4 linked regions of the Homo sapiens genome follow. The protein of the gene in region 1 interacts with the protein of each later gene in a biochemical or structural test. Each region holds a gene or a part of one and is shown on either strand. Other genes may lie near its edges.

Evidence for each region.
Region 2: of the proteins of GRK5 (region 1) and TACR1, one has a biochemical effect on the other in vitro, tested with the Homo sapiens proteins (one study listed by BioGRID).
Region 3: of the proteins of GRK5 (region 1) and SNCB, one has a biochemical effect on the other in vitro, tested with the Homo sapiens proteins (one study listed by BioGRID).
Region 4: the proteins of GRK5 (region 1) and CAV1 form a complex in vitro, tested with the Homo sapiens proteins (one study listed by BioGRID).

What each region holds. Positions count from the first base shown.
Region 1 is NC_000010.11:119,441,355-119,448,841, reverse strand, and holds part of GRK5 (G protein-coupled receptor kinase 5), read right to left. Parts: intron 6,844-7,487; coding exon 6,754-6,843; intron 5,299-6,753; coding exon 5,090-5,298; intron 720-5,089; coding exon 582-719; intron 1-581. UniProt on the Homo sapiens protein: Serine/threonine kinase that phosphorylates preferentially the activated forms of a variety of G-protein-coupled receptors (GPCRs).
Region 2 is NC_000002.12:75,196,435-75,204,330, reverse strand, and holds the start of TACR1 (substance-P receptor), read left to right. Parts: upstream 1-4,810; 5' UTR 4,811-5,396; coding exon 5,397-5,785; intron 5,786-7,896. UniProt on the Homo sapiens protein: This is a receptor for the tachykinin neuropeptide substance P. It is probably associated with G proteins that activate a phosphatidylinositol-calcium second messenger system.
Region 3 is NC_000005.10:176,627,457-176,635,217, reverse strand, and holds the start of SNCB (beta-synuclein), read left to right. Parts: upstream 1-4,683; 5' UTR 4,684-4,938; intron 4,939-5,252; exon of another isoform or gene 5,253-5,409; intron 5,410-5,554; 5' UTR 5,555-5,563; coding exon 5,564-5,684; intron 5,685-5,717; exon of another isoform or gene 5,718-5,779; intron 5,780-7,761. UniProt on the Homo sapiens protein: Non-amyloid component of senile plaques found in Alzheimer disease. Could act as a regulator of SNCA aggregation process. Protects neurons from staurosporine and 6-hydroxy dopamine (6OHDA)-stimulated caspase activation in a p53/TP53-dependent manner.
Region 4 is NC_000007.14:116,555,549-116,561,679, forward strand, and holds the end of CAV1 (caveolin-1), read left to right. Parts: intron 1-3,397; coding exon 3,398-3,739; 3' UTR 3,740-5,631; downstream 5,632-6,131. UniProt on the Homo sapiens protein: May act as a scaffolding protein within caveolar membranes. Forms a stable heterooligomeric complex with CAV2 that targets to lipid rafts and drives caveolae formation. Mediates the recruitment of CAVIN proteins (CAVIN1/2/3/4) to the caveolae.

The sequences.
Region 1 (7,487 bases):
AAGGACAATTCTACCTCAGCTGGAATCTTGCCTCACACACCGACTGGGGGACCTGGGGACCTCCTGGGAAGATGCAACTCCCTGCAATGTGAGCTGCTGGGGGAGGGGCCTCTTATGTTTCTGCCTGGCCCAGAACCTGGCGTCAACAGTAGTGCTCGATGCATGCATGCTGGTCAAGATGAACTGAATGTAGTGGCCGTCAATGCTCTTGAAAGCATTCCCCATTCAGTTCTCATTTCACCCTCAAATCTCCCAGGCAGGTGGGAGGCATGAGTGTTACTGGTTTCACTGGACAGGGAGGAAACTGACGCTTAGAAGGAATCTGTCCAGGACCCCCAGACCTGGGAAAGTGCCCAAGTCTCTGGACAGCCAATGTGGGCTCCCTGGCCCACGCCTCTTCTGCACTGCCTGGCGTGAAGTTCATCTGCAGCTTAGGTGAGGAGTGGCCGGGAGGGGACCCTGGTCCCCACAAAGACACGATGTGCCCCACACTCTGCACCAGCTCACTGTGAGGCAGCACTCGGGGGCAGCCCTGGGTACCCTGTGAAGGGAGCTGCTGGGGGCTGGGGGAGGCTACTCACGTCTGGAACGAAGGGAGGGTCCAACATCCCGGCTTCTAAGCGCTTGAAGTTCATGTTCCTGAAGAAGGGGTGTCTCTTGACCTCTGCAGCCCCCTCCTCCTGGCAGCCCAGCCTCTGCTTCGCATCTTTCGTGAGCAGCTGAAACAGAGAGCCCCATGAAGCCACGTCCCCTGGGCCTCTCCTCCTGTCCGGACCTCCTGCCTCCACAGTGTCTGCACCATGCCTAGGAACCCAAGACACGCTGCCCCACCCTGCAAAGGTCTTGCTTCAGGGCTGCCTCTGAGTCTTGGCGTGCATCTGTGCTCACACACTCACAGCCTGGCTAGATGCCTGATGGGACAGGAGAGCAGGAATCTTGTTTCTCTCAGGATTACAGACCTCGTTCCTGGGTTATGGTGGGCACTCATTAATGGGTGTCGAGTCACTGTCACCTCTTCTGTGTAGGGTAAGCAACAAAAGGCAAGGACTGCATCAATAGCTCTGTCTCGTGCACATACTCAGCTAATTTGCAGAGTTGTACCTCCTGGGTGCAAGCCCCTTCCTGACAGAGAAGGCACCACCGAGGCACTTGGCCTCTAGGAGTGCTCAGACTCATGGGGGGCTAATCATGCTCAGAGGACGCATCAAGGTGATACAGATCGGGCACCCCGGGGGCAGGGGGCATGACTGGCTGCCAGCTGGAGGTCAGGGAGCTGCACGGGGAAGAGGTATTTAAGTTGAGTCTTGCAGGACAAATAGGCTTTCAAGGTGTGGGTAGGGGGAGGGGTATACAGGTAGAGGGAACTGCACCAGCAAAGCAGAGTGGCAGGACGTGCAGGGTGAGTCTGGGGAACACCCAAAACACGTTTGACTTAGAAAGCGGGAGGAGGGTGCAGAGATGGGTCAAGGGGAGGGGGCTGGTCAGGGAGAGATGATAGAGGATCCTGAAGGCCAGGTCAGGTGGCGGGATTTTCATCTGGAGGTAGAAGGAGCCAGGGATGGTTGAGGTAGGAGAGTGTCTTCATCAGAACCACGAGGCAGGAAGGTTACTAGGAGAGGAAGAGTCTTTGGGAGCAGACACCCAGGTGAGACGGGATGAGGCTATGAATGAGGCCAGAGGGCTAGACCTGCGCAGGGGGCCTTGACTAGCCATGGCCAGCCACACGACCACAGGGCCCCGGCCCCTGACCTGCACTCCCAGTGCCCCAGCCTCGTGATTCTCTCTTCTCCTCTGCCTTACTGAGCGCTGCAGCTGTACGCAGTTGGTGTCTACTAAGTGTCTGCTTTGAGGCTAAAATCCAGAGGAGCAGACTGCTTGGGGTAGGGGCCCAGCCTTGTCTTTTCCCAATGCCCTGTGCGCTTTGCTCATATTCATCCCATGTACACTTCCTGCTGGTCCTTGTGGGGCAGGCACTGCACCGGCTGGGGACGCCGGGGAGAGTGAGCAGCCAGACTGGCCTCTTGGGGCTCAGGGTCTGGAGGGGGCTGCCCCCCAAACAAAGGAATCGAAGGTGGCATCAGGGCCAGCACCAGGTTCCACCCTTGAAAGGACAAAGCAGAGCACTCAGTCGCTCAGTGTTGCCCCTTAACGCCCCCACGGACCACCAGGCTGGCGGCTCAGGGTCTGGCACTCATGCCTCTGCTTCTCTCTCTGGGGGCTTCACTGTTCAACAAAGGCTCAAGGCACTGGGTTGGGCTGGGCCCAGGTGCTGCACTGTTCTAAGCAGTCCCTCAGAGGCAAGTCTCCTTCTGCAGGGGCTGCAGCAGCTGGCCAGGAAGGTGGCACAAACGAGGATGAGAAAGGCGAGGGGTGGGCTGGGTGGGCCGGGCCGGGCTATGTGTCAGCTCCTGCCAGGTGGGACGGCAGCCAGGGCCTGGGGCTTCTGCTTTTCAAGAGAAGCCAGAAAATCCAGGTTATTACATGAAATCTCCTCATTTCTAAATCTTGGCAATGAACCTACCATTTACTTCTTTTGAAAAACCGTGTGCAGGTTGAACACCCGCCTATATGCTGCCATTTGAAACCCTGGCATCCAGTCAACAGTTTGCAGCCACATCGTCAGGTAAAGAGTTTGCAATCATGCTATCAGGTGGACACCAGGAGAAGTGAGAGGAAGAGAAGGTGTGAGCTGGGATGGGTGGGGCAGGCAGAGCGGGCTTCCTGGAGGAGGGGTACAGATGGGCTGGAAGGACAAGTGAGACCAAGACGGCTGAAAGGCAAGAGGGAGCTGGAGGGGGGCTAAGGCCCAGTGCTGGGACTGAGCAGGGGTTTGGGGAAGATGGAGGCTGAGGTCTGGGCCCATGGACTGGGCTCAGGAGACAAAGTGGTGAGATGTGTGAATTTCTGGGCTCCAGAGGAGGGGGAGTGGGTTCTGCGGCTGCTAAGGTAGAATGGGGGACAGACCTGGGGGCCAGAGACTGGCTTCCTCACTGATTGTGGAGGGACCCTCTTAGGCAGGCAGGGCTGGAGCCACCAGAGCCTAGAAATAGCCCTGTGAACCCAGGACCTGCGAGGTCTCCTGGCAAGTCAGGCTCTGCAGTGTCCTGAGCTGCCACCAGCTGGAGGGGACAAGGTAGGCCTAGATGCCGGAGATGCTGCAGTCAAGGGCGTGAAGGAGGCCTAAGACTAGACTCCCAAGACCAAAGATCATTTGTAAGGGAAGCCGCAGCAAGGCCAGAGGCTTCCAGAGGACAGTGGTTTTGTACCCACGGGACAGGTCCTCCGGGAGCAGCAGGCTTTCTCTCAGTGTCCACCAGGGGGCAGCAGAGGGACAGCAGCACCCTGGTCCAGGCTGCAGCAGGAGATCCCAGCTCCAAAGCCAGGGGCCAAGGTGGGTGTCTGGGGTCTGGGGGTGGGACTGGGGCCCTCTCCGCCTCGTCATCCTCTTAGTACGTCCCATATCCCTGCTGAGATCTCTCAAGACCTGCTTCTCTGATTGCCTGGCCCTGACCTGGGACATTTGGTGATGCTCTGCCCACGGCTGTCTGACCCCTTCTTCTTTCCCTTGTCTCGTTTTGTCGCACCTGACAGATATCTCCCAATGAGACAGCCAAGTATGGCTCACACCCACATTTCCATTTACCCGACCAGTGCTGCACTGCTCCTCCGGTCCCCCCACCCTAGCCCTGGCTGCGATGACCATGTGGCTTTCTCTGAGGCCCCAGCTGCATGGCGGGCCAACAGCTGTGGGGTTAGAGTGTGGGTCTGCTGTACACACAGGACTTCTTCCCACAGCTCTGTGATGTGAGGATGAGGTTGGTGACAGGAAGGGGCCAAGCAGAGGTGTCTGGCTGCAGGAGAGGGGCCTCTGGGGTGAGGAGCCGAGCCAGACCCTCCTGGGGCCGCTTGCGGCGCAGATCTCAGGTCTTCCTGAGCAGAAGCATTGCGACTTTTAATCAACTCCCAGGACTGCTGCTTCCTAAACTCCGGGAGTTGCCTGGGTTGTCAATGCACACGCTGAATCTGCCCCAAAAGTGCCTGCAGATGTAGAGGGGTGGGAAGTGTGGCTCCCCCCTCCCAGGCTCGGTTTGCCCATCTGTGGCTCCGGGTACATGGGATACGGGGTACATCTGTGGCTCCAGGGAGAGGAGAGGAAGTCTGTGGGCTGGCAATTGTGGAGCTGGGTGCTCCGGCCCCTCCTGTCCCTATGAGGCTGGCATTAGAGGGCAGCTGCTTGCAGTGGGGGTGCCAGCACAGCTGTGCTGGGGACCATAAGGAGGAGGGCCCCAAGGGGGCATGGGCTGGACTTGGGGGCTGAGAGCCAGGCAGCAGCAGGAAGTGGCCATCTCCCCACAAAGCCAGCCACTAGTCCTGGTTCCCAGGGAAGGGCCTGAGGGCCGGCATGGGGCGGCCCAGTGGCAGGGGTGCACGGGCGGACTCCACTCCCATATCCCCCACTTCCAATGGCTCCTGTCACTCCTTATCTGGCTTCCAGTCCCCCCATCTGGCCCCACCCACCCAGCTTTTGGGTGGGTCTGACCTCACTATCCCTAGACCCTGTCATGCAGGAGCCAGGCTGGCGTGACCAGCAGTCCATCTAGTGGTGGAAAACTTTGTTATAAGATGTTCAAAGACTGAAATCGTCGCCCCCACCCCCTGTAGCCCTTCGTCTTAAACCAACACCTTAGGATCCAGAGGTGGAGGGAGCAGGAGGCCCACGGGCAGGGGCCGGGGCTTGGCCCAAGGTTGCTTTGTGTCTGGGGCACCAGCTCAGACCATCTCTTCTCCGCCCTGTGTGGACCCCCCCACAGGCTGGATGTGAGGGTGTTCCACACTGTTCCCCTCACCCCTCTTCCCTTGGTTCCTGGGTGTCCCTGCCCCACCCAGGCTTTCTCCTGGAAGTCTCCGCTGACCACCCCAGTCCACAGCAAGGAGTGCCCTCAACTCTAGCTTGGTGGGCTGCAACCCCCACCCCCATGCTCAGACCCCTGTCCCTTCAGCCTGTTTGCTGTTCTGGGGACAGACTGGGGCCAGGCCCAGGGAGGGGAGCCACCAGCTTGAGGGTGGCATCTGGCCACCAGGAGCTCACCATCTTGCAGATGGACTTGGCCTCCTCGGAGAACTTGTGGGAGTACACCTCCTCCGTCTCCAGGACCCGGCGGTCCACCTCCTCCCGCTTCACCTTCTCCTTGCGGCCGCGGAACGGCGACTGGCCCTCGATCATCTCATAGATGAGGCAGCCAAGGCCCCAGTAGTCGGGGCTCAGGCCGTACCTCTGGTTGTTCAGGACCTCTGGAGCTGGGGGCAGAGGAGAGGAGAGAGGAGTGAGGAGGAGGGAGACAGCTGGTGGCGCTGCTCACAGAAGGCCTGGAGTTTCATGGCCGCCACCAACTCTTACCCCACCAACTGCTGTGAATACCACCCCCTCCAGGGAGCTTGCCCTGATGACTCTCCTCTGTGCCCCCGAAGGACTTTGACTGTAGCTTTAGAACTCTGACCACCGTGGATGGAGGTGTCCTGCACTCTTGATGTCCCCTCGCCTAGAACATGAGCTACTTTATTCACTACCGTAACAATATGACACCTGGCACAGAACAGGTGCTATCAGTATATTTGTTTCAATGAATAAAGGTGTATCTACCCAAATTAAAGATGATCTTAAATTTATCTGTAATTCAAACAATCTCTTGCTATGTCTTCTGTACCACTTTGATAAACCGAATTACAGATTTACCATAGAAATACAGAAAAGATAGTTCTGCAGCATCAGCACGTATGTCTGGAGGGAAATGCATCCACACATGTGCTGGTTTGCACACAAGAGCCGGGGCAGACAGATGCATGGAACACTCTGCAAAAGGAGACCCAGGCAAATGCACACACAGGTAGGCAGATCTATCATCCACCCATCCATCATCCATCATCCATCCAACCATCCATCCACCCGCCCACCCGCCTACCTATCAATCATCGATCAGCATTCATGTGGGCACACACACACTCACATACACACAGACACACACTCCACAGGTTGCCAAATGTCATGCAATCTGAAAAGGACCCTCTAGCACCAGAGACAAGGCACACCTCCTGTGCAGCTGCTGTCAGTACCAGCCTGACTAGAGGGCGGCAGCGTGCCTGCTCCCCGGGCACGCGCCTCTCAGGGGAAGGAGGGTAGGTGTGTGAAATGCACAGGAGGAAGCCCAGGGCGTGCCCCCAATTGGACGGGGGATTCTAGGGCACAGGACTTAACTCTGGGTCTCTTCCCTGCAACCCCCAGGACGCTGGTCTCAGAGCAGACTGAGGAAAGGTGGCAGGAGCCCAAGGCTGCTCTCTACTGGAATCATGCTTGGTGACACAGCAGCTGTGCGCGCCTCTCATTTGCGGGCTCTTGTGAATTACCTCCTTCCTCTCAAAGGCCTCTCCTCCCAGACCCCTGCTTCAATGTGGCCTCCCCTAGCAGCGCTGTATGCCAGGCCCCGACCCCTAAGAGTGGCTTGGCTTTGGACACAGGTGGGGCTGGGGGCCTGGGAGTGCAGAGAGCTCAGAGCAGTCATCACATCTGGGGCCCCTGTGCTCCCCCTCCCCCTGGCTAAGGCCGCCCCCCAGCAGCCCTGCAGAGACTGTGACTCTGTGTGTGATCAGCAGTGCATGAAGAGGCGAGAGGCTCTGCGGGCAGGCTCTGGGGGCTCGGCCGGCGGTGAGCAGGTGGTGGGTCTCAAGGTGCATTGACACAGGCAGCCCAGCACTCACCCATGTAGCCAACAGTGCCCACCCGGCCGCGGATCAGGTCTCCCTCGGGGATCTTCACAGCCAAGCCCAGGTCTGAGATCCTAATGTGGCCTGAGGGGGACAGCAGGGTCAGTGGGTCCCTGGGACAGCCGCATGGGCACCCGGCCTTGCTGTGTGCCCTTGGGCAAGGCATACGAGCTCTCGGCATTCTCATCTGTCCAAGGACAACAGGGACCCCAATCTGCCATCTCAGAGTGACCACAAGAGCCTTGGGAGAGTGCAGGTGTGGGAGGACACAGGAAAATGCCCACTCTTCAGGAGTGGAACATAAAGATGCAATAGGATGCCTGGACCCGGCTGGACGTTGACCGACCTGCCTAGTCAAAGGCTGAATGGGCTTCCTGGAACGCTGAGGTCAGAGAATCTTGGCTTGGTTCTGGGATTACTTCATGGGAAAAATGTGAGGTTCTTCTGGCATTATGCAACAATTTGCTTAAGGGGAAAAAATTATAAAACGATTTGGGAAGCAGCTCCCCGGCCTGCCTTGTTGGTCTCTGGAGATTGGTTGTTTTTCACTTTAGAGAAACGAGAAGGGAAAACATCTGGTCTGACCTGGCAGAGCCTGGAGATGAATCCCAGCTCACAGCCCAGGACTGAGCCCCCAGAGCGGGAGACGCTGAGCTGAGGCTCCACTTTGGTCTTTGTCCCTCCCACAGCCCACCTGGGCAGGGTCGCGGCCACAACTTACCCCACAG
Region 2 (7,896 bases), on another chromosome or scaffold:
GATGTATTAAAGACTTAAATGTAAAACTATAAAAACCCTGGAAGATAACCTAGGATATATCATTCTGCACATAGGCCCTGGCAAAGATTTCATGATAAAGATGCCAAAAGCAATTGCAACACAAACAAAAATTGACAAATAGGACCTAATTAAACTAAAGAGCTTCTGCACAGCAAAAGAAATTATCAACAAAGCAAATGGACAACATATAGAATGGGAAAAAAATACTTGCAAACTCTGCATCTAACAAAGGTCTAATATCCAGAATCTGTGAAGAACTTAAATTAACAAGCAAAAAATAAACAGCCTCATTAAAAAGTAAGCGAAGGACATGAACACTTTTCAAAAGAAGACATACCCATGGCCAAGAAGCATATGAAAAATTGCTCACTATCATTAATTATTAGAGAAATGCATATCAAAACTTCAATGAGATACCATCCCATATCAGTCAGAATTGCTATTATTAAAAAGTCAAAAAGTAACAGATGCTGGTAAGGTTTCAAAGAAAAGGGAACACTTGTATACTGCTGGTGGGAATGTAAATTAGTTCAGCCATTGTAGAAAGCAGTGTGGCAATTTCTCAAAGAACTTAAAACAGAATTACCATTTGACCCAGCAATCTCATTATAGGGTATATACCCAAAGGGATACAAATTGTTCTACCATAAAGATACATGCACTGATATGTTTATTGCAGCAACTATTCACAATAGAAAAGACATGGACTCAACCTAAATGCCCATGAATGGTAGTACACTGCATAAAGAAAATGTGGTACATATTTGTATATATACCACATATATAAATGTGGTATATATATACACGTGTAAATGGAATACTACACAGCCATAAAAAAGAACAAGATCATGTCCTTTGCAGCAATATGGATGGATCTGGAGGCCATTATTCTAAGCAAACTGAAGCAGGAACAGAAAACAAAATACTGCATATTCTCACTTATAAGTGAGAGCTAAACGCTGAGTACGTATGGACACATAGAAAGGACAACAGACACTGGGCCCTACTTGTGGCTGGAGGGTGGGAGGAGGGTGAGGATCAAAAAACTACCTATCAGATACTAAGTTTATTACCTGGGTGACAAAATAATCTGTCCACCAAACCCCTGTGACACAAAATTTATCTATATAACAAACCTGCACGTTACTCCTGAACCCAAAATAAAAGTTTTTTAAAAACCATGCTGGTGTCTGTGTATGTGCAAATATATGGGCAAATTGCAAATAATTCATGTTTTCGCTTTAAAAAGTAATACATGAAGTTGGTATAGACTCTTAGTTATTTGTATAAAATATAGGAAATAATTCAAAGAAACAAAACTTTATTTAAAACTTTTAAAAATAAACAAATATGAATAGAAACTCACAACATATATATGCATATGCATAGGAATATAAATATAATCTACTTCCCAGCAATTCCACTTTGAATCTACCCCCATAGAAAGAAAACACCAGGATGTAGAGAATGTTTATTGTTAATTGCCTTTAGTGACAAAAACTGGAAACAAAGTTAATTTTCATGAATAGAGAATTGAATGTATAAATTACGGTGTATCCATAACATAGAAATAATATTTAACCACTGAAAAATGAGTTAAATCTATACCTGTTGACTCTGAAACAGCTGGGCAAAGTTTAGAGTGGGAAAAACAAAATACAGACAACAATGAAAGTCCTATATTTGCATTTACATGTGTGAATATTATGTATGTTTGTATTTCCATCTAGATAGTATCAAAGAGTCTGGACAAATAAGGAAGGATTTATACTACATTGTTAACAGCGTTTACTTTAAGATGTGTGATCCTGTGTTGAGTGTCAAGGAAGATGTTCAGTGAAAAGAGGAACGAAGGGGGAAAAAGGATAAGAAAACAAGAATATCAGCTCTTGGAGGGAAATAGCATGTATAGAATTTTATCTATATATTTGTGCAAAGCTGTAGGGGGAAAATTCATTACTTTATAGATGGGTGATGCTAGATAAAGTGTCTCCTCATATCATAGGTATGAACCAAAAACAACTTCTGCTACTGTATAGCTGAGGCTTTTTTTTTTCCTCAATGGTGAACCCATCATGAATATGCTTTTTCTTTTTAAGAAGAGAAACTAGCTTTAGCAAGTCATAAGGATTCCTAAGATATGGCTACCAGCCATGAAAATCCCGGAGTAGAAAGAAAAACAACCCCAAGTCAGACTCATCAACACATCAGAGTTGAAGGCCAGGGTAAGGAACGTAGGTGTCCCAGTGCCTGGCACCAGTTCCACCATTTGAGGTGGCTTTGGACTGGCATACAAAGCCTCAAAGTTAGCCGAGGGCTAGGCAGGATGGAGGCAGGGAGAGAAGGCGGGCTGACCTGCGCTCCAGTCCCTATGCAAACCTGGAAGGTGAGCAGGGAGAAGAACCCCTGATGCCACCCAGGGCCCCGCTCTGACCTGCAGGCTCATAGGTGGGCAGTCATTATGGGACTTTAAGCAGAGTGACAAGGTTTGATTTATAAAACTTCAGCCTGAAATATTCGCCTTTTTTCCACCCTCAACCTCTTCCCATCCTAACTCATTCTTCAGGCTTCTTCATGGATGAGATTTTCTTCCATCTGTACGGATACCCCTCATTGTTTAGGTTAGGTGGCCTCCCTCTTCTCTCCTCACTCAGGGCTTAGTACCTTTGGTCATCATAATACCGCCCATTTTGTATGGTTCATTGCTTCTTGTTTGTCTTCCTCCATACTGTAAGTGCTTGTTCACCCCCCAGCCCCAGTGCCCAGCACAGTACCTGCTTCAAAATATCAACTTGCTGTACTAATGGAGGATAAATGGATTAATGTTTACTTTTTAGCTATTTCATATTTATTTTATATTTAGCTCTTATTACATATTTAGATTTTATTCGATTAGCTTTCTTTTTCTCCCTTAACCACTGAATAAAGTTCCTTTTGAAAACGTCAGCCTGGCTCTAATGGACAGGGAGAAAAAAGAAAAGATAACTTTAAACAGCTTGGAAGGAAAATTAAAGATAGAGAAGTTTCCCCTCCCCCCTCCCCCACCCTCCGCATCCCCTTCCCTCTCCCTTTTCCTCCCTCTCTCTGTCAGCTCTTTGAGATGGTGGAAGCCTCAAGCAGAGATCCAAGGTGGAGGAGGCATTCCCTTCCACAAAGAAGACCTCTTGTGCAGCCGCTCTAAATAAAGGGACGCTGTTCTCTTGAAAGCATCTCTAGAGTTTTCTATGCAGTGTGTTTACGGGTGCCTAGGAGAACCTGGCAAAGCAATGTGCGGTTCCTATATACGCTAAAATCCCAGGCTCCGAAAAAATACAGAGTGAAACAGCAGATTCTCCTCCCCGGCGTGGGATCCAATTTTTGCCCGGCATAAGTGTATAGTAAATTTCCCAGCCTTAAAGCACTTCCCGAGAGATGCTTTGAGCGCTCGCGGTACCAGTGCGTAAACGCCGCTCCCCGGCTGGCGCGGGTGTGCGCCAACTCCAACCTGCGCGCAAGTCTGCCGGTGCGCGCTCCAGTCCCACAGCTCCGAGTCCCCGCAGTGAAAGGAGGGGGCGGTGCACCGGGGTAGATGGGCCCCTGAGGACTCCCGGGGTTCAGTTTTCCGCGGAACTCTGCCTGCAGCAGTCTGGCGGGAACGTGCTGCGGAGCTCATCCCATCTTGGCTTCTCCAAAAGGGTTTATACGGACTGGCGAGTCTTTGCCCTGCCTCCTCCAAGTGTCTGGCACCAGTTCTACCGTTTGAAATGGTCTTGGACTGGGATACGAGGCCTCAAAGTCAGAAGACGGCAGGGCAGGATGGAGGCGGGCAGAGAAGGCTGGCTGACCTGTCCTCCAGCCCCTATGCAAACCTGGAAGGGGAACAGGGAGAAGGACCACCGATGCCACCCCGAGCCCGGCTCTGGCCTGCAGGCTTGGCAGGCGCGGAGGCGGAGGCTGCCAGGTCCCCGGGAGGCAAACGCAGCGCCGCAGTGATTGCTGGCGGAGAGCCCAGAGCCGCGCGTCTGAGCGACAAGCTGCCTATGAGTGTGGCTCCTGCGCTCACCAAGATTCGCAGGGAGCTCAGCCCTGTCCCCAGTGATTGAGCAGAGGCTCATCCAGAGGGGTCAGGTGGAGGGCTCAAATGGAGCTTCTCCTGGAACGAGGGGCCAAGTCACCAGGGTGGCTGAGGAAAGTGTCCTCAAAGCTTAGAGACTGTCACTTCCCAGGTGAATCAGCTAGCCAGGTAACTGAGCTAGATATTTTGTGGGGGTGTTTCCTAAACACAGCCTCAGGAAAGTTGTTTTCGGGACACCTGGACCAGGGAGTCGTCGCCTCTGGCTTCTCGGTAGCTGGAGCGCGGCCCGGAGCGCGGCGCTGGCACATCGCCCCCACACATGACCGTTTCCCATTGCCACAGGCAAGCCGCCTCTGCAGAGCTGTCTCAGGGCTCTGGGCTTCATTCCCTGGAAGTTGATTGTCCTCCACTCCAGCTGTTTCCCAAATCCTTCCTTCCTCCCAGCACCCCTCGTGCAACGACGATTCCAGCTGCGGACCGCATCTGTGTCAGTTACTTCCAAGCCACCTACTGCCCCCTCGCGGAGTGCGTGGGGCTCCCGGCTCGCAGACTCCCACGGCAAGTAGCAAGCAGCAAAAGGCGTGGTAGCTGCGGCGGTGGAATGAGACAGTTGTCAACAGCTGGCGCAGCTGCCGCGCTGCGCACCGGGACTGGCGAGTACGCAGCCCAGGTACTGCCCCTTCCCAGTGACGTCTCTGCAGGGGGTTATAAAAGCCTCGTGCGCAGCTAACTCGCGAGCTGAGCAACCCGAACCGAGAGGTGCCCGCGAAACTGCAGGCGGCGGCAGCGGCAGCAAAAGAGAAGGAAAAATCTCCAGCTGGATACGAAGCTCCAGAATCCTGGCCATAGGCTCAGAACTTTTACAGGTCGCGCTGCAATGGGCCCCCACTTCGCTCCTAAGTCCTCACGCAGCACAGGGCTTTGCCTTTCCCTGCGGAGGAAGGAGAAATAGGAGTTGCAGGCAGCAGCAGGTGCATAAATGCGGGGGATCTCTTGCTTCCTAGAACTGTGACCGGTGGAATTTCTTTCCCTTTTTCAGTTTACCGCAAGAGAGATGCTGTCTCCAGACTTCTGAACTCAAACGTCTCCTGAAGCTTGAAAGTGGAGGAATTCAGAGCCACCGCGGGCAGGCGGGCAGTGCATCCAGAAGCGTTTATATTCTGAGCGCCAGTTCAGCTTTCAAAAAGAGTGCTGCCCAGAAAAAGCCTTCCACCCTCCTGTCTGGCTTTAGAAGGACCCTGAGCCCCAGGCGCCAGCCACAGGACTCTGCTGCAGAGGGGGGTTGTGTACAGATAGTAGGGCTTTACCGCCTAGCTTCGAAATGGATAACGTCCTCCCGGTGGACTCAGACCTCTCCCCAAACATCTCCACTAACACCTCGGAACCCAATCAGTTCGTGCAACCAGCCTGGCAAATTGTCCTTTGGGCAGCTGCCTACACGGTCATTGTGGTGACCTCTGTGGTGGGCAACGTGGTAGTGATGTGGATCATCTTAGCCCACAAAAGAATGAGGACAGTGACGAACTATTTTCTGGTGAACCTGGCCTTCGCGGAGGCCTCCATGGCTGCATTCAATACAGTGGTGAACTTCACCTATGCTGTCCACAACGAATGGTACTACGGCCTGTTCTACTGCAAGTTCCACAACTTCTTTCCCATCGCCGCTGTCTTCGCCAGTATCTACTCCATGACGGCTGTGGCCTTTGATAGGTGAGATTAGCCTTTGTGAAAAGGCGAGAAAGTGCTCATAGAGGACCACGGCATTGCTGTGAGGTTTGGAACTGGGTGGGGTATGGGTCAAGTGGAAGATTGGCCACTCTGAGGGTTTTTTTACTGATCAACTGAGTCATTTGTTGATGGGGAACTTCATCTTATGTATTTCAACTTTTTTTCCTCTTTTTTACCCATCACTCTCTCTCTTCCTTTCAACACACATCCCCCTTTTCTTCATTTAACTCCCCTTTCTTCATCTCTTCTCCACTCATCTTCCTGACACTTTCAACTTCTGCTTTGCTCCTTTCCATATATTCCTTCTCCCCTTTACCCTTGCAGGCTGCAAACAATACCTAGGGTTTGGTCAAAGGACTAGACCCTGGAAGGGGCTTTGTAAATTCCTCCAGGCCTGTTTTTCTGTCAGACAGCCTCTTGTTGCCTTCCTGTTTTAAGTACACCTAGAGGATTCTGGGACTTTCTGCTCCCACTGCAACTCTCCAGTTTGTTGTTGTAGTTGTTGTTGTTGTTTGGTTGGTTGGTTCGTTGGTTTGTGTTTGTTTGTTTGTTTGTTTTGGATGTGAAAGAGCATTTCATCAGTATCATAAGATACTCAGAATTCTAATGCAGTTTACTCTGTAATGCTAGGAATTCTCATTCAGGAATGAGAGACAGTTATGCTATCCTTAAGAAACTCCACGGATAGGGATCCAGGAAGCTTACCCAAGAGGTGTTCTAAATTTCTCCTGCAATGTAAAATGTATGTATTTAGCCTGTCTCTATCCACAGAGAAACATGCTTGGCAAAGGCATTTGAGAGCTCTTCTGTTCCGGCAACCAACAGGTTAGGGTTCCCAAAGCTGACTGAAAGTGAAAAGGTTGGCATTTCAAACACTGGGGATGGTATTCTGGAATGAATGGCTCTTCAGGTAGCATGATGGAAAATTGATTATTGGAGCACAGCTCTGTTGGTATTGTCTCCTTTGTGAGTATCTTAGGTCTCCAATGTGTATGTCTATGTGTGCACAGGTGTTAAATGTTTACCTGGGATGTGAAAGTATGCTTAAAACACCTACCACTGTGATTTTAAAATGGAGTCTTTTGATGTCCTTCCTGAGATAACTGAATGTGAGAAACCCAAAGAAGGAGCTAGGAGAAAACTTCAAAAAAAATTCCAAACTACTAACCCTCTTTGCATAAAGATTGTTTATAACTTGCAAATTATTAGAAGTCTTTTTTAGCTCCTGTAGTCAATGAACACTTTTAAAATCAGGGAAATCTTCATTTCCATCCTTTGCAGTGGTGTCCAAATACTGATTTGTTAGTTCCCTGTACATCTCTCTATATGCAGCTCCTATGTGCTTACTATGTTTTATGTAAAACAAATTGTGGAAAATCAGTTTGTATTTTAAATGTAGATGGTAAACCAATTACTCAAAGTGGGAGTGAAATGAATTATTTTGCAAATTTATCTTTTGTACTACACTGGTTTTCAGATATTCAGTTTGCTGAAAGTGAGGTACACCTGTAAATCTTTCTGCATTGACATGCTCCTTTAATCTCATAACAGCTTCCTTAAACTTAAAAAAGTCGATAGCATGATATATAAGTGAATATCAGGGTAGTGAAACCTGATGCCAGTTCAGCCTTACAAACACTCTCTTGATGCCCCCTAAATTAGAGGGCAAGTTTTTTGGGGGGTTTTGTTTGTTTGTTTGCTTTTTCTGCACTGGGGCTTTGCACAAGCTCTAGGAAGACCTGTCAGTCAGTGTGAGCTGGAGCATTCAGTAGCTGATGGAGCACCAGCAGACAGCTCTCTCTTTTGGCTTACACAGAAACATGTTCTGCAGCCCTGATCTTTCCTCTGGAACTTAGAAGGTTAGGGGTGGGGATGAGAGTCAGAGTCCGCACAGTGGATTGGGCAGGGAGCCAGATTTCAGCTCCGTTGTTGTTTTTCTCTAGGTAAACCACCGCAGAGCCCCGACCCTCTGTGATACCTGCTCAGTGAGACCAAAAGGTCTCGGATGCCAGAGCTTTAGGAAATGACAGCGACAGGGAATGTCACCATGTTTCCAACATGCAGATACAGCCCAGGGAGGTTACCAATGGCAT
Region 3 (7,761 bases), on another chromosome or scaffold:
TGTCCTTCTTTCTCACTGCCAGAGCCTTCTCAGTCTTTCTCCAGGTTCCTCTGCTTCTGGCCACCCCGAAGTTTGCAGCACCTCAGGAGTCTGTTCCGGGCACTCTCTTCTTTTCACTCTCCGTGCACCCCCGGACGATCACACTCAGCCCTATGGCTCCAGCCACCACCTCTATGCTAATGACTCCAAACCCAGTGGGGCACTGATCTCACTTGGCTCACAAGAACAATTGTTAAAACTTCAGGAATCTGGCTGGGCGTGGTGGCTCATGCCTGTAATCCCAGCACTTTGGGAGGCTGAGGTGGGCGGATCATGAGGTCAGGAGATCGAGACCAGCCTGGCCAACATGGTGAAACCCTGTCTCTACTAAAAATACAAAAATTAGCCAGGTGTGGTGGCGGGTGCCTGTAATCCCAGCTACTCAGGAGGCTGAGGCAGGAGAATCCTTTGAACCCAGGAGGCAGAGGTTGCAGTGAGCCGACATCACGCCACTGCACTCTAGCCTGGGCATCACAGCAAGACTCTGTCTCGAAAAAAAAAAAAAGAAAAAAAAAAAAACTTCAGGAATTGTGTGAGCCAGTTGTTAAAGCCATTACATTGTTAAAAATTAAATTATATAAAGTTATAGTTACATTATGTTTAAAAAACATAGATAATACTCAAAACACATAACTTCCTAGTTATTTTACTATTATCTGTGCTCTTAAGGTTATTTTTATCTACGTTATCTGTCTCATGAAAATTCTAGATAACTGAACCAATTTTCTGTTCAATGACATCACACTGACAGCTTGGAATCAACTGTGGTGGGAGTATTTTACCCCAAGGACATTGGCAAACCACAAATCTAGGTGTTCCTTCCTGCCTACCCTTTTCCCGCCCCAACCTTGGAGAGCCATTTGTGCCATTTGTTAAAGAATTCTGAGTACACCGTGGCTCAAATCTGCATCTGAAGCCAGCCTGGAGTGCTTTCCTGAGCTCTGGGCTCAGATACCCTAGTGTCTGCTGGACACCTCCTCCAGCTTGTCTGTCATTCCCCCAGACAAGCTCATCATCATCCCCCCACCAAGCTGCTCCACCCCCTCAATGCCTATTTCATTTTGCAGCAACATCACTCACCCCATTGTCCAAACCAGAAACCTGGGAATCTTCCTCAACTTGTCCTTCTCCGTCTCCCATAACACCTAATAAGTTACTCCCAAGTGATGTTCACGTCTCTCCTTCCAGCCCTGCTCCAGCGTCACCCGGGCTTCTGTAGTTCAGGCGTCCTTGTCCCTCCTCTGGAGTCTGCCCCAGCCTCCTACTGATCTTTCTACAGCCAGCCTTATCCTCCTCCAACCCATCTCCGTTTGGCCCCATAAAATGCAAATCTCATTAGGTCTCTTGTGCTTAAAATCCTTCAGTGACTTCTTGTTTCCTGTGATCTGAAGTTCAGACACGCTTCATTTCATCTTCTTTCTCTCTTCCTCCTTCTCCCCGCTCCTCCATCCTCCTTCATCTTTCTTTATCTTGTACTCTGGCATCAGGAGTTCTTAATCCCAAGCCACAGAAATCACTTCTGGGTGATTTAAGCAAATAAGGAGTTTATTAAATACTGGGCAGCTCATGGGCCAGGTACAATAGCTCATACCTGTAATCCCAGCACTTTGGTAGGCTGAGGTGGGAGGATCATTTGAGGCCAGGAGTTCGAGACCAGCCTGGGCCACCTAGTGAGACCCTGTCTCAACAAAAAATAAATAAGTAAATCACAAACAAATACCCTGTCTCTACGAAAAATAAATAAGTAAATCACAAACAAATAATAAATATTTTTTAAATTAGCCTGGCATGGTGGCACGCACCTGTAGTCTCATCTACTGAAAGGGCTGAGATGAGAGAATCACTTGAGACCAGGAGTTCGAGGCTGCAGTAAGCTATGATTGACTGTGCCACTGCACTCCAGCCTGGGTGATACAGTGAAACCTTATCTCTTAAAACAAACAAACAAACAAACAAACAAACAAAAAAAACACTGGACAGCTCAAATAATCTCCAGGATAGCTAGAAAATCCACGCTGGAGACCACACAGCCTGAAATGATGCCCCAAATCCCACTACCAGGCAGACCTATGAAGAATCCCGATGCCATGGCTGGGCATGGACAGTGCAGCTTGTCCTGTTGGTGTTGGACACTCCCACAGTGAGTGTCACTGCTGCCAATGGTCCTTGGCAGGAGCTGCCACCACCACTTTTCCACACCAGAACACACCCCTCCCCCACCCCGCCCTCTGCTTCCCTGCTGCTTCCTGGGACTAGCTTCAGGTCCCAAGTCTGGAGCTGCACCTGTCAGTCACATGTCCTGGCTGCAAGGAAGACTGAGAAAGCAATTATCTGGCATAGTCATCTCTCAGAGGGGAAGGTGGGTTCTGCCTCAGAAGGTGGGGGACCCCTCTAAACATGGGAAGGGGGCAATTTTAATGCTGAGAGACCAAAAATAACTGCAGGTACCCTCCATGCTAGTTCTTAAAATAACACAAGTAAAATACTATCCAAGGGAAAATAATCAAACAGCACCAGTAAGGAAGGCAATGGAATGTGAAACTTCCTTCCCTGAACCCTCTCAGTCCCGTTTCCTAGGTGCAACTCCCTTTAACAGTTTTCTCAGAAATTATTACAGAGGTGTGGCCAGGTGAGGTGGCTCATGCCTATAATCCCAGCACTTTGGGAGGCCTAGGTGGGCCGATCACTTGTGGTCAGGAGTTCGAGACCAGCCTGGCCAACATGGTGAAAACCTGTCTCTACTAAAAATACAAAAATTAGCTGGGCGTGGTGGCACATGCCTGTAATCCCAGCTACTTGGGAGGCTGAGGCAGGAGAATTGCTTGAACCCTGGAGGTGGAGGTTGCAGTGACCCAAGATTGCACCACTGCACTCCAGCCTGGGTGACAGAGGGAGACTCCATCTCAAAAAAACAAGAAAGAAAAAAGAATTGTATATCTAGCCATAAATATGTGTATGTTTGTATATAAGGTGTCTGTGTATAATGTATATAGTATGTGATAAGTATGTATATGTTAGTATATAATATATATTTGACACATAGAAAATTATAAGTACTTATACATAAAATATAATTCCCTTTGTATCAAAATTGGCTCATTCCACACATTCCAGTTTGGCACCTTGCTTCTCACACTTACCACCACATCTTGGCACACTCCCATGTCAGCACACATGGGTCTAGCTCATCTTTGCCAACCATAGTGTGGCATTGCACTGGGTGGATGTGCCACAGTTAGCTAGCCAGTCCTGTACAGATGATCATTTAGATCATTTTCAGTTTTTTGCTACAAAAAAACATGCTACAGTGAACATCCTTGCACAGGTATCTTTGTGTGCATGTATGGCTAGAGTCGCACGGGATCAATTCCTGGAAGGGGAGCTGTTGGCTCCAAAGGCGCATGCATTTATGCTTGGTAAACATTGCCAGATTGCCTTCCAAAATGTCTGCGCCAATTTGCAGTTCTACCAGCGGCCTGTGAATGTTTTTTGTTTGGTTGGTTGGGTTTTTTCCTTTTTTTTTTTTTTTGCAGTCTGGCTGCTGGTGGCCCCCTCGCCTAATTACCTGTCACTTACACACCCTGCATTTCTGGCCACAGTGCCTTTGCCCATGCTGTACCCACAGCCTAAAATTCTCTTTCTCCCTAGCCTGCTCGATGAAATAGTCCCCTTCCTGTCAGGCCACAGTTCAGTTGTCACCTCTTTTTTATGTCCTTTCCTGACTCCCCTAAGTTGTCAGAGTCCCTTTCCTCTGGGATACTACAGCTTCTTGGGCATAATTCTATCATAGAACCAACTGAGGGCCTACTGTGTGCCTGGCATTCTGTGATCATTTTGACAGTCCCCACCGTAAGCACACAAAAAAGTGGTTTTGTTCTCCACCTCCCTCCATCCTGGCTCTCCAGCTGCGCTGTCTTTTGTCAGCACAGTCCTGCCTTGGAGCCTTTGCACTTGCACTCTCTATGGATCTTGTCCTCACCCATCGTGGTGTCATGGTGCCTCTCTGGAGTCTCTGCTACAATTCACCTGCTGGTAGAGGCCTTCCCTGAGCACCCTGTCTCAAGCACCCCTCCTCTAGTCCCCGTGTTACATCACCGTTACCTTCACAACTTACAAGCTGTAATGACCTTGTTGCTTTGGATGTTGATCCGTTTATTTTCTGTCCTGTCTTCCACCACTGAGCGCACGAACACACACGCGTACAGACACCCCCATGGTAAGCTTCCCGAGACCAGGAACCTTGTTTTCCTTTTCCGCTGCCTCCAGCCTTAAACCTGCACCACTGGACTAAGCGCTCAGTAAACATTCGTTGAATTAACCATTCCTGTTTTACAGAGGAGGAAACTGTCATTCAGAAAGGAGAGCCGAGTAGCTCAAGGTCCCACGGTTAATAAAAAGCACAGCTGAGATTCGAGCCCAGCAGAACTCCAAATCCAGTCGCGTGATTTCTTCCCCACTCTTCACACGCCGCGTTGTCCCCCTCCCTCAACTCCCAACAGACTACGCGAGTCTTACGGCCGGGGCCCCCAGGGGCGCGTCCCGGGCCCGCCCCGGGAGGCTCATCGGCTACGCGCTGTCACCCTCCCCGCCCCCTGTCAGTCAGGCCGAAGGGGCGGCGCGGCCGCCAGCGGGGGCGCTGAGCTCAGAGCTGCCGCAGCGCCGGAGCCGGAGCCGGAGCCGGAGCGCGCGAGCTCGCAGGGCGCGAGGAACGAGCGGTGGCTGGCTACGCACCCGAGACCCGGGCACTGCTGCGCTCCTGCTCAGGACCCGCGACCCGAGCGCCTGATCCCGGCCCTATCCCCCCTCCGGCCCCTGGTCCACCCCGGCCTGGCCTAGCGGAGCCCCCGCGTCCGCCCGCCGCAGCCGCCGCTCCATCCCCAGCCCCGGCCCCGCATCCAGGTGAGGCGGCCGCGCGCCGGGGATGGGGAACGGGATGAGGATGGAGAGGGGACTGGGGCGACAGGAGGGAGCTGGGGAAGGGGATGGAAAATGGAGGGAGACCCGGGGGATGCGCGTCAGTGTGCACCCCGGAGTATGTGAGTATGCTCCGGTGTTTGCAGCTGCCCGGGCGGCTGTGGGGACGTGTGTCCGCGCCCATGTGGGTCGGGGTATTCGTGCGCGTTGGAGCGTCTGCGTGTCCTGTGTGTGCACGTGAGCTTGTCCGTGGTGTATGTTTGTGTGCATGACCGTGTGACTGTGCCGTGCGTGTACAGGCGGGTCCTGGATATTCGCGCCGAACCCAGCACTCCGGTTCGACGGGGCTGCAGTTTGCAGGGCCCGGATAACCGAGGCAGTGGCCCCTCCCGCGTCCCCAGGTTTCAAGGACGCTAGGACTCTCCGCGGCCCTGAGGCTTCGCACTGGGGAGTGGGGTGGGATGGGGGGAAAGCGGGAGGGGGCTCAGGGTCCAGAAGGGCGCCGCGGTCTCGGGAGTAGGGGGGCATCTGCGTCCCGCGGGAGGGGCTGGGGTGAGAGTGCGGGGCCAGTGCACCGGTGCCCGTGTATCGCCCTCCCCAGGCCGCCAGGATGGACGTGTTCATGAAGGGCCTGTCCATGGCCAAGGAGGGCGTTGTGGCAGCCGCGGAGAAAACCAAGCAGGGGGTCACCGAGGCGGCGGAGAAGACCAAGGAGGGCGTCCTCTACGTCGGTGGGTAAGGGGCGGGGTTTCTGGGGCTGCAGGGCTGGGGGTCCCCCGACAGTGTGGAGCTGGGGCCGGGTCCCGGGGAGGGGGGTTCTGGGCAGGAGAATATGAGTCAGCAGATGGGGCGAGGTCAGCAGGGGTCATAGGGGACATAGCCAGCCCATAGAAGCCTGGGTCTGTATCCGGAAATGGGGACACGGGGCGGGCTGATGAGGTGGGGGGCTCCAGCTGAAAGGCCAGGGACCAGTGCAGTGATGAAAGCAGACAGCCTCCTTTTTCTTATCTTTTTTACCATTATTAATAGTTATCTGGTGTTGAACACTTTCTGTATGCCAAGTACTGGGTAAAATGTCATAACATCCATTTCCTCATGTAATGCTTCGGCCCATTCTACAGGTAAGGGAAACTGGGCTTCCCAGAGATCTAAGTACCTTGCCCAAGGTCAGCAGCTGGTAAATGCTGAAGCTGGGGTTTGAACGGAGCTTTATAGATTCTGAAGCCCCACCCCTCCCCTTGTGGCGCCTCCCTCCAGCACCTCCAAGGCCGAGTTGAGTTGCGTTCCAGGTCCACCTGCATCACAACTCTTGTGGTTTTACCTTTGCCAGCTCTCTTCCCCGTCCACTTTCCTTGCAACCACTGGCTGGTATCAGAAGAAAGGCCAGGGTTGGATAACTTGCCCAGGGTCGTGGCATATTTGGATTGTGGCCATTTGAAAAATATTTTGTGTCCACTTACTATGTGCCAGGCATCCTGCAGATGCTGGGGTTTCACAGTGAACAGGAAAGAATGGTTCCTGATCTCCTGATGGTGATACAGAGCATTTCAGCAGTGCGAGTTGACATCCAGTGGCTCCCTGAAGAGAATGCCTCATCCCTGAGTAATAAGAGGGGGGCAGGGCTGCAGAAAAGCCAGGTGCAAAGGCCCTGGGGTGAGCTGGGGGCAGGGCAGGAAGTAGTGGTAGGAGGTGAGGTCAGAGCGATGGGCAGGAGACAGTTCACGAGGGCCCTTTGCAGGCCAGGGCAAAACGTTGTTATCATGGCCACGAGAGACTGTAAGCAAGGGACTGCCATGATGTGATTAGTTTAGAACGGTCACTTGGGCCTCTGGGGACAGAAAAACTGCAGGGAGGCCTGATGAGGCCACAGGATGAGGGTGGCAGGGGCGAGGGTGGTGGCAATGGAGACCGGGAGAAGGCTAAAGTGCATGGCTGCTTGATCCCAGCTCTGGCCTCCCTCCTGCCTCCTCCCCAGGGTCTTTCATTCCTGCTGGCCTCTGGCTCTCTGACACTCTCTCTCTGATAATAGACTTGGCCCCTCCAAGCCATGCTGCTCTTCCCCTTAGATTGGCACTTCCTGCTCCTGCCTCTGCCTGGGAGCCCCTGATGGACCCCAGTTCCTACAAGTTAAAGCCTCGGCTCCCTGTACCCTGGCATTCAGTGCCCTTCATGGTCCTGCCTCAGTCTACATTTCCCACCACACCCATGGCTCCTGGCACATGGACTGTCCTGAAAGCACATTGCTCTGCCTTGTCTGTGTGGGTCCCTGGGCCTGGGATACCCTCTGCAGTCTCCTTTCTGATGTCCATCTGTTCCCCATTTCTCAAGGCCTAGGCAGTGTCCCTTCCCTCCTCACATAGTCAGTCCTTGGAGGCTGGAAGTCCTCTCCCCACTACTTGAGGTCCAGGAACTGAATCTGTTCTTCTCTTACCCACTTCAGACAGTGAGCGATTGGCCCAGGGCCTGGCACAGAGTAGGTGGAAGCTGATGTTTTGTGGGAGGAGTGAAAGGGGAGCATGCAGCCTGCCCCTCCTGTCTCTGGGTGCTGGTTGGCCTTCGCCCTGAGAACCCTGTCTTCCCACACCAGCCTCTTCCCCCACCCCCCCGCCGGGCTCAGTCTGCCTAGACACCCAGTTCTGGCTCCATCACTGTTGTCTGTGTTGCCAAATTGTCAGACGGGATACTCCCCACCCCGTTTCCGTCTCTCATCCTCCAGCCCAGATCAGGCCCTCTGGCCTTCCCAGCGGCCCCCAGACATTTTGAAGTTATCAAGTTGCTACCCTCCGAGGAAGGCCCAGCCAATGCCAC
Region 4 (6,131 bases), on another chromosome or scaffold:
AAAGAAAGAAAGAAAGAAAGAAAGAAAGAAAGAAAGAAAGAAAGAAAGAAAGAAAGAGAAAGAAAGAAAGAAGGGAGGGAGGGAGGGAGAGGAGAGAAAGAAAAAGGAAGGAAGGAAGGAAGAGAGAGAGAGAGAGAGAAAGACCTAGTCACCAAAAGCAAGAGATTTTTTAAATGCTACTATTTTTTGGGCATTTACTAATCATATTGCTATGCTCTGCACCCAAGCTAAGTAATTTAAATAAATTATCTCATGTACTCCTCTAAAACTAATTACTGCTGTGTAAATGGAGGTAGAAAGAAACTAAGCTTTATTTCTGCCTCTATTGTTTCTTTAACCTGCCTTGCTTCCTTTTTCAGTTGCACCTAATTGGCTGTACTTTTAGTTTTCTTTAAAACTGCCTTAAATTTCAAAGACTAAAGCAGCAATAACTAACTGAATATATTTATATAACATGTTATTTTTGTCATGTTGCTTTCCACCCCTGGAGACCTGCTCTAAATTCACTTGGACGTTTGAGGATAAATCATGCTCACTAGCAGTTTCTGAAAATGCAGTTTCACTGAAAATGCAGGCATCCAGAAATTTAGTAAGCAACTTAAAAGAAAGTGTAAGAATCTCCTATGTATTCATTGAAAAATAATTTGAATTTATGCTTAGAAAAATAGAATTATTATTAAGAAATCTTACACACTCATGTTTTTAAATATCTTCACTAAGGACCAATTGTGTATATGGTGTAACACTGTCCTCAAAGAACATGCCGGGAGAATTGTTGCAGTTACCAGAGGGTTAAATTTGGCAAACTCTTTTTTATTAACGTGCCTTTTAATTATGAAATAGCATACTCACCTTAGATAAAATTTGAAAACCATTTTTGTAAAGTGGTACAATATTGAAGAAAGTTGATAACTTTCAGACCAGATTTAAGCCTCAAATCTACCTCTCTTTTACCTGGACAACTCATTAGCATTTCTGAACCTCACATTTTTTCTATAAAGTGAGAATACTATATTATAGAGTTGTTGTCAGTTAAATGAGAACAGTGTCTGATCACAACTAGTCAACAAATGTTCACAACTCTTCCCCTCCTAGGAAAAGAATCTCAAGGCAGACCTGCTTCGGGTCTGCTCTGTAAAGAGGTAGGAATCCTCTGCTCCCGGTAAATTGCTTCCTAACCTTCTTTGGTAATAGACTATTTTTTAATAAAGGTGATGGATCATTTCCCATTATACACTCAAAATGTGTGTCCATTTCAGGGCAGTCATGGATGACCATTGCCCATCTTTTGACCCCAGATTAAGAACACCTGCTGTAGTATTTTAATTCTGCCTTCAAATCCTCTTACAAAACAAAGACATCTTTAAAAAATAAAATTCTTTAGGTGTCTTGCAGTTGAATGCAGGAAAACCAGAGCCCCTTATTTTTGATAGTTTTGGGAAGAATGCAGTGTCAGAACACAAACCCATAATAGACAAATAATTTGCACAGAAACTTCATAAAAGTATTGACCTGATTTGCCATGTATTTGCCACCTTTTAAAACACACAACTAAATGTTTACCCTGTGTCTAGATCCAAATGGGTGAAGAAAAATGAGTGACAATACATCTACTTAAGCTCACTTACATAATTGTGGCCATGCCGTTTTTTTCACATTACATTATTAGAACATTGGACAATAAGTCAAGAAACAGAATGTTCTACAAAATAAACTTTAAAAATTGGTAAGCATCATGTGCTTTTTCCAGAAGACATTTTATTTTGTTGAATCAAAGGTGGCTCTTTGGCACTGAGTAGCTCCGTGGAGTCATGGCAGTCCTCATTCCCTAATCCTGAGCCTGCCTGAGTCGCTGCTGTCAGTCATCCACTTGTTGGGATTTCAAACTGCATTAAATCCCCTCCTATAGCTGTCACTGCCAAGCAGTTGCACTGGCTCTGTCCTACCTTTCTGTTGGTAATTCTGTTTTTAATCCTGTGCTTCAGTGTAGTTTATATAAATCTTTACAGAGGGATAAAACTTCCTGTAATTAATTGTTTGGGTGAACATGTACCTGGGAGAGCTATTGGGAAAGGGGCCAAATTTGCATTCCAGCTCCTTTCATCCCCACCCTTGAGCTAACCAAGTCCTGTGGATTCTTCCCTTAGCATCTCTGGAACCTTCTTTTCTTTTCTTTTTTTTATGACCACCTTTCCAGTCCTGGCCCTTCAAACTTGAGTGACAGCAACAGTCTCCCTGCCTTGAGTCTCTTTCCTCCTTCTCCCAGTGTGCATACGGTTGTCAAACTCATCTTGATAAACTACTGCATCGATTGTGGCTACACTCCCCTGCTCCCACATCTTCCATAGACCCCACTGTCTGTAAAATAATATTCAGTCTGGCCTCAACCTGTCTTTCCAGCCTCGGTGACACAGGTCTATTCTGCCTGAGACACTTACTATGACACCCTTGCTTGTTCCTGGGGCTTTGACACATTTCCAACGTCCCATTGTTCTTCCTCTCCAAATCAGCCAATTGCCCAAGCCCTGCTCAAATCTCCCACCTCATGAAGCCTTCTTGATGCCTCCCAGCACACCATGATCTAATTTCCTGAAGTAATTATGCTAATTGGGCATTTGAAGAATTGTTAACCGATTATCAACTAACTGCCCCTTAACATTGCATGTGTAGTTGTCTTCAAAGGCAGTTAAATTATGTCATGTTCCTTACATTGTACTGAGTGCCTCGTATCCTTATCCATGTTTGGGGGTTTTACTTTAAGTCAAGAAATTTAATCACATCCATTTGGTTTTCTCTAGAGCTGTAGTTCTCAACCTTTTGTGTGGTAGAGAAACACCTAGAGAACATGTTTAAAAATATCCTGGGTTCCACCCTTGAGAGATAATAAGGTCCAAGGGGAACCCAAATATCTGTGTTTCAGGTCAGCTTATTGGCTCATCCTATTATACCAACTCCTCAGAAGGCCAAGGTGGGTGGATTCCTTGATCTCAGGCGTTCAAGACCAGCCTGGGCAATATCGTGAGACTCCATCTCTTAAAAAAAAAAAAAAAAAGGATTAGCCAAGTGTGGTGGCATGAACCTGTGGTCCCAGCTACTTAAGAGGCTGAGGCAGACAGATTGCTTGAGCCTGGGAAGTCGAAGCTGCAGTGAGCCATGATCATGCCACTGCACTCCAGCCTGGGTGACAGAGCAAGACCCTGTCTCAAAAAAATAAAAATGAAAAAAATCTGTGTTCCCAAGTTCCAAGTGATGCTGATGCTGCTGGTTGCCTTTAAGCATCTCACAAAGAACGAACTCATAAATGCTAATACAGTATATGTCTATGGATACTGAATAGTGGGTTTTTTTTCTCTTTTCTTCTATTCTGTGCTCATGTTGTGTCACTTCTTCCTTTTAGATTGACTTTGAAGATGTGATTGCAGAACCAGAAGGGACACACAGTTTTGACGGCATTTGGAAGGCCAGCTTCACCACCTTCACTGTGACGAAATACTGGTTTTACCGCTTGCTGTCTGCCCTCTTTGGCATCCCGATGGCACTCATCTGGGGCATTTACTTCGCCATTCTCTCTTTCCTGCACATCTGGGCAGTTGTACCATGCATTAAGAGCTTCCTGATTGAGATTCAGTGCATCAGCCGTGTCTATTCCATCTACGTCCACACCGTCTGTGACCCACTCTTTGAAGCTGTTGGGAAAATATTCAGCAATGTCCGCATCAACTTGCAGAAAGAAATATAAATGACATTTCAAGGATAGAAGTATACCTGATTTTTTTTCCTTTTAATTTTCCTGGTGCCAATTTCAAGTTCCAAGTTGCTAATACAGCAACAATTTATGAATTGAATTATCTTGGTTGAAAATAAAAAGATCACTTTCTCAGTTTTCATAAGTATTATGTCTCTTCTGAGCTATTTCATCTATTTTTGGCAGTCTGAATTTTTAAAACCCATTTAAATTTTTTTCCTTACCTTTTTATTTGCATGTGGATCAACCATCGCTTTATTGGCTGAGATATGAACATATTGTTGAAAGGTAATTTGAGAGAAATATGAAGAACTGAGGAGGAAAAAAAAAAAAAAGAAAAGAACCAACAACCTCAACTGCCTACTCCAAAATGTTGGTCATTTTATGTTAAGGGAAGAATTCCAGGGTATGGCCATGGAGTGTACAAGTATGTGGGCAGATTTTCAGCAAACTCTTTTCCCACTGTTTAAGGAGTTAGTGGATTACTGCCATTCACTTCATAATCCAGTAGGATCCAGTGATCCTTACAAGTTAGAAAACATAATCTTCTGCCTTCTCATGATCCAACTAATGCCTTACTCTTCTTGAAATTTTAACCTATGATATTTTCTGTGCCTGAATATTTGTTATGTAGATAACAAGACCTCAGTGCCTTCCTGTTTTTCACATTTTCCTTTTCAAATAGGGTCTAACTCAGCAACTCGCTTTAGGTCAGCAGCCTCCCTGAAGACCAAAATTAGAATATCCATGACCTAGTTTTCCATGCGTGTTTCTGACTCTGAGCTACAGAGTCTGGTGAAGCTCACTTCTGGGCTTCATCTGGCAACATCTTTATCCGTAGTGGGTATGGTTGACACTAGCCCAATGAAATGAATTAAAGTGGACCAATAGGGCTGAGCTCTCTGTGGGCTGGCAGTCCTGGAAGCCAGCTTTCCCTGCCTCTCATCAACTGAATGAGGTCAGCATGTCTATTCAGCTTCGTTTATTTTCAAGAATAATCACGCTTTCCTGAATCCAAACTAATCCATCACCGGGGTGGTTTAGTGGCTCAACATTGTGTTCCCATTTCAGCTGATCAGTGGGCCTCCAAGGAGGGGCTGTAAAATGGAGGCCATTGTGTGAGCCTATCAGAGTTGCTGCAAACCTGACCCCTGCTCAGTAAAGCACTTGCAACCGTCTGTTATGCTGTGACACATGGCCCCTCCCCCTGCCAGGAGCTTTGGACCTAATCCAAGCATCCCTTTGCCCAGAAAGAAGATGGGGGAGGAGGCAGTAATAAAAAGATTGAAGTATTTTGCTGGAATAAGTTCAAATTCTTCTGAACTCAAACTGAGGAATTTCACCTGTAAACCTGAGTCGTACAGAAAGCTGCCTGGTATATCCAAAAGCTTTTTATTCCTCCTGCTCATATTGTGATTCTGCCTTTGGGGACTTTTCTTAAACCTTCAGTTATGATTTTTTTTTCATACACTTATTGGAACTCTGCTTGATTTTTGCCTCTTCCAGTCTTCCTGACACTTTAATTACCAACCTGTTACCTACTTTGACTTTTTGCATTTAAAACAGACACTGGCATGGATATAGTTTTACTTTTAAACTGTGTACATAACTGAAAATGTGCTATACTGCATACTTTTTAAATGTAAAGATATTTTTATCTTTATATGAAGAAAATCACTTAGGAAATGGCTTTGTGATTCAATCTGTAAACTGTGTATTCCAAGACATGTCTGTTCTACATAGATGCTTAGTCCCTCATGCAAATCAATTACTGGTCCAAAAGATTGCTGAAATTTTATATGCTTACTGATATATTTTACAATTTTTTATCATGCATGTCCTGTAAAGGTTACAAGCCTGCACAATAAAAATGTTTAACGGTTAAACAGTCAGCTTTATTATTTTTTCCCAAAACAGGTGTTTATGTGTCAGAGTCTGTGTATGTCTATGTATTTGTATGTAATGAGCATGTGCATAGTGTGTGTATGTGTTTGTATGTGTTTGTGGGGGGTAATGGTCTCCCACTTTAAAATTATTACAAAGTCACTTAGGATATTTCTGCTAAGGTCATCACCATTTATGAGTTGCTTCAGATAAAAGTTATAATTAATAACAAAGTTTTTTTAGCAATTTGCCCAATGTTTTATATGTCATCTAATTTGAGCCCCCAGCAAGCTTGTGTGATGGATATTAATACTCTTAACTTAGCGAAAGACACAATTTGCATTCGGGGCCAATGCCTTCAACTTTGCCATGCCTTAACTGGGTTTTAAAGAGGTATATTGCAGTCTCAATTTATGTTTGTTGCTTGGCTAAGTTTACCTTCAGGACTCCTATATTAGGGTTCTCCAGAGAAACAAAACCAATAGGAGATAGTTGGAGATAG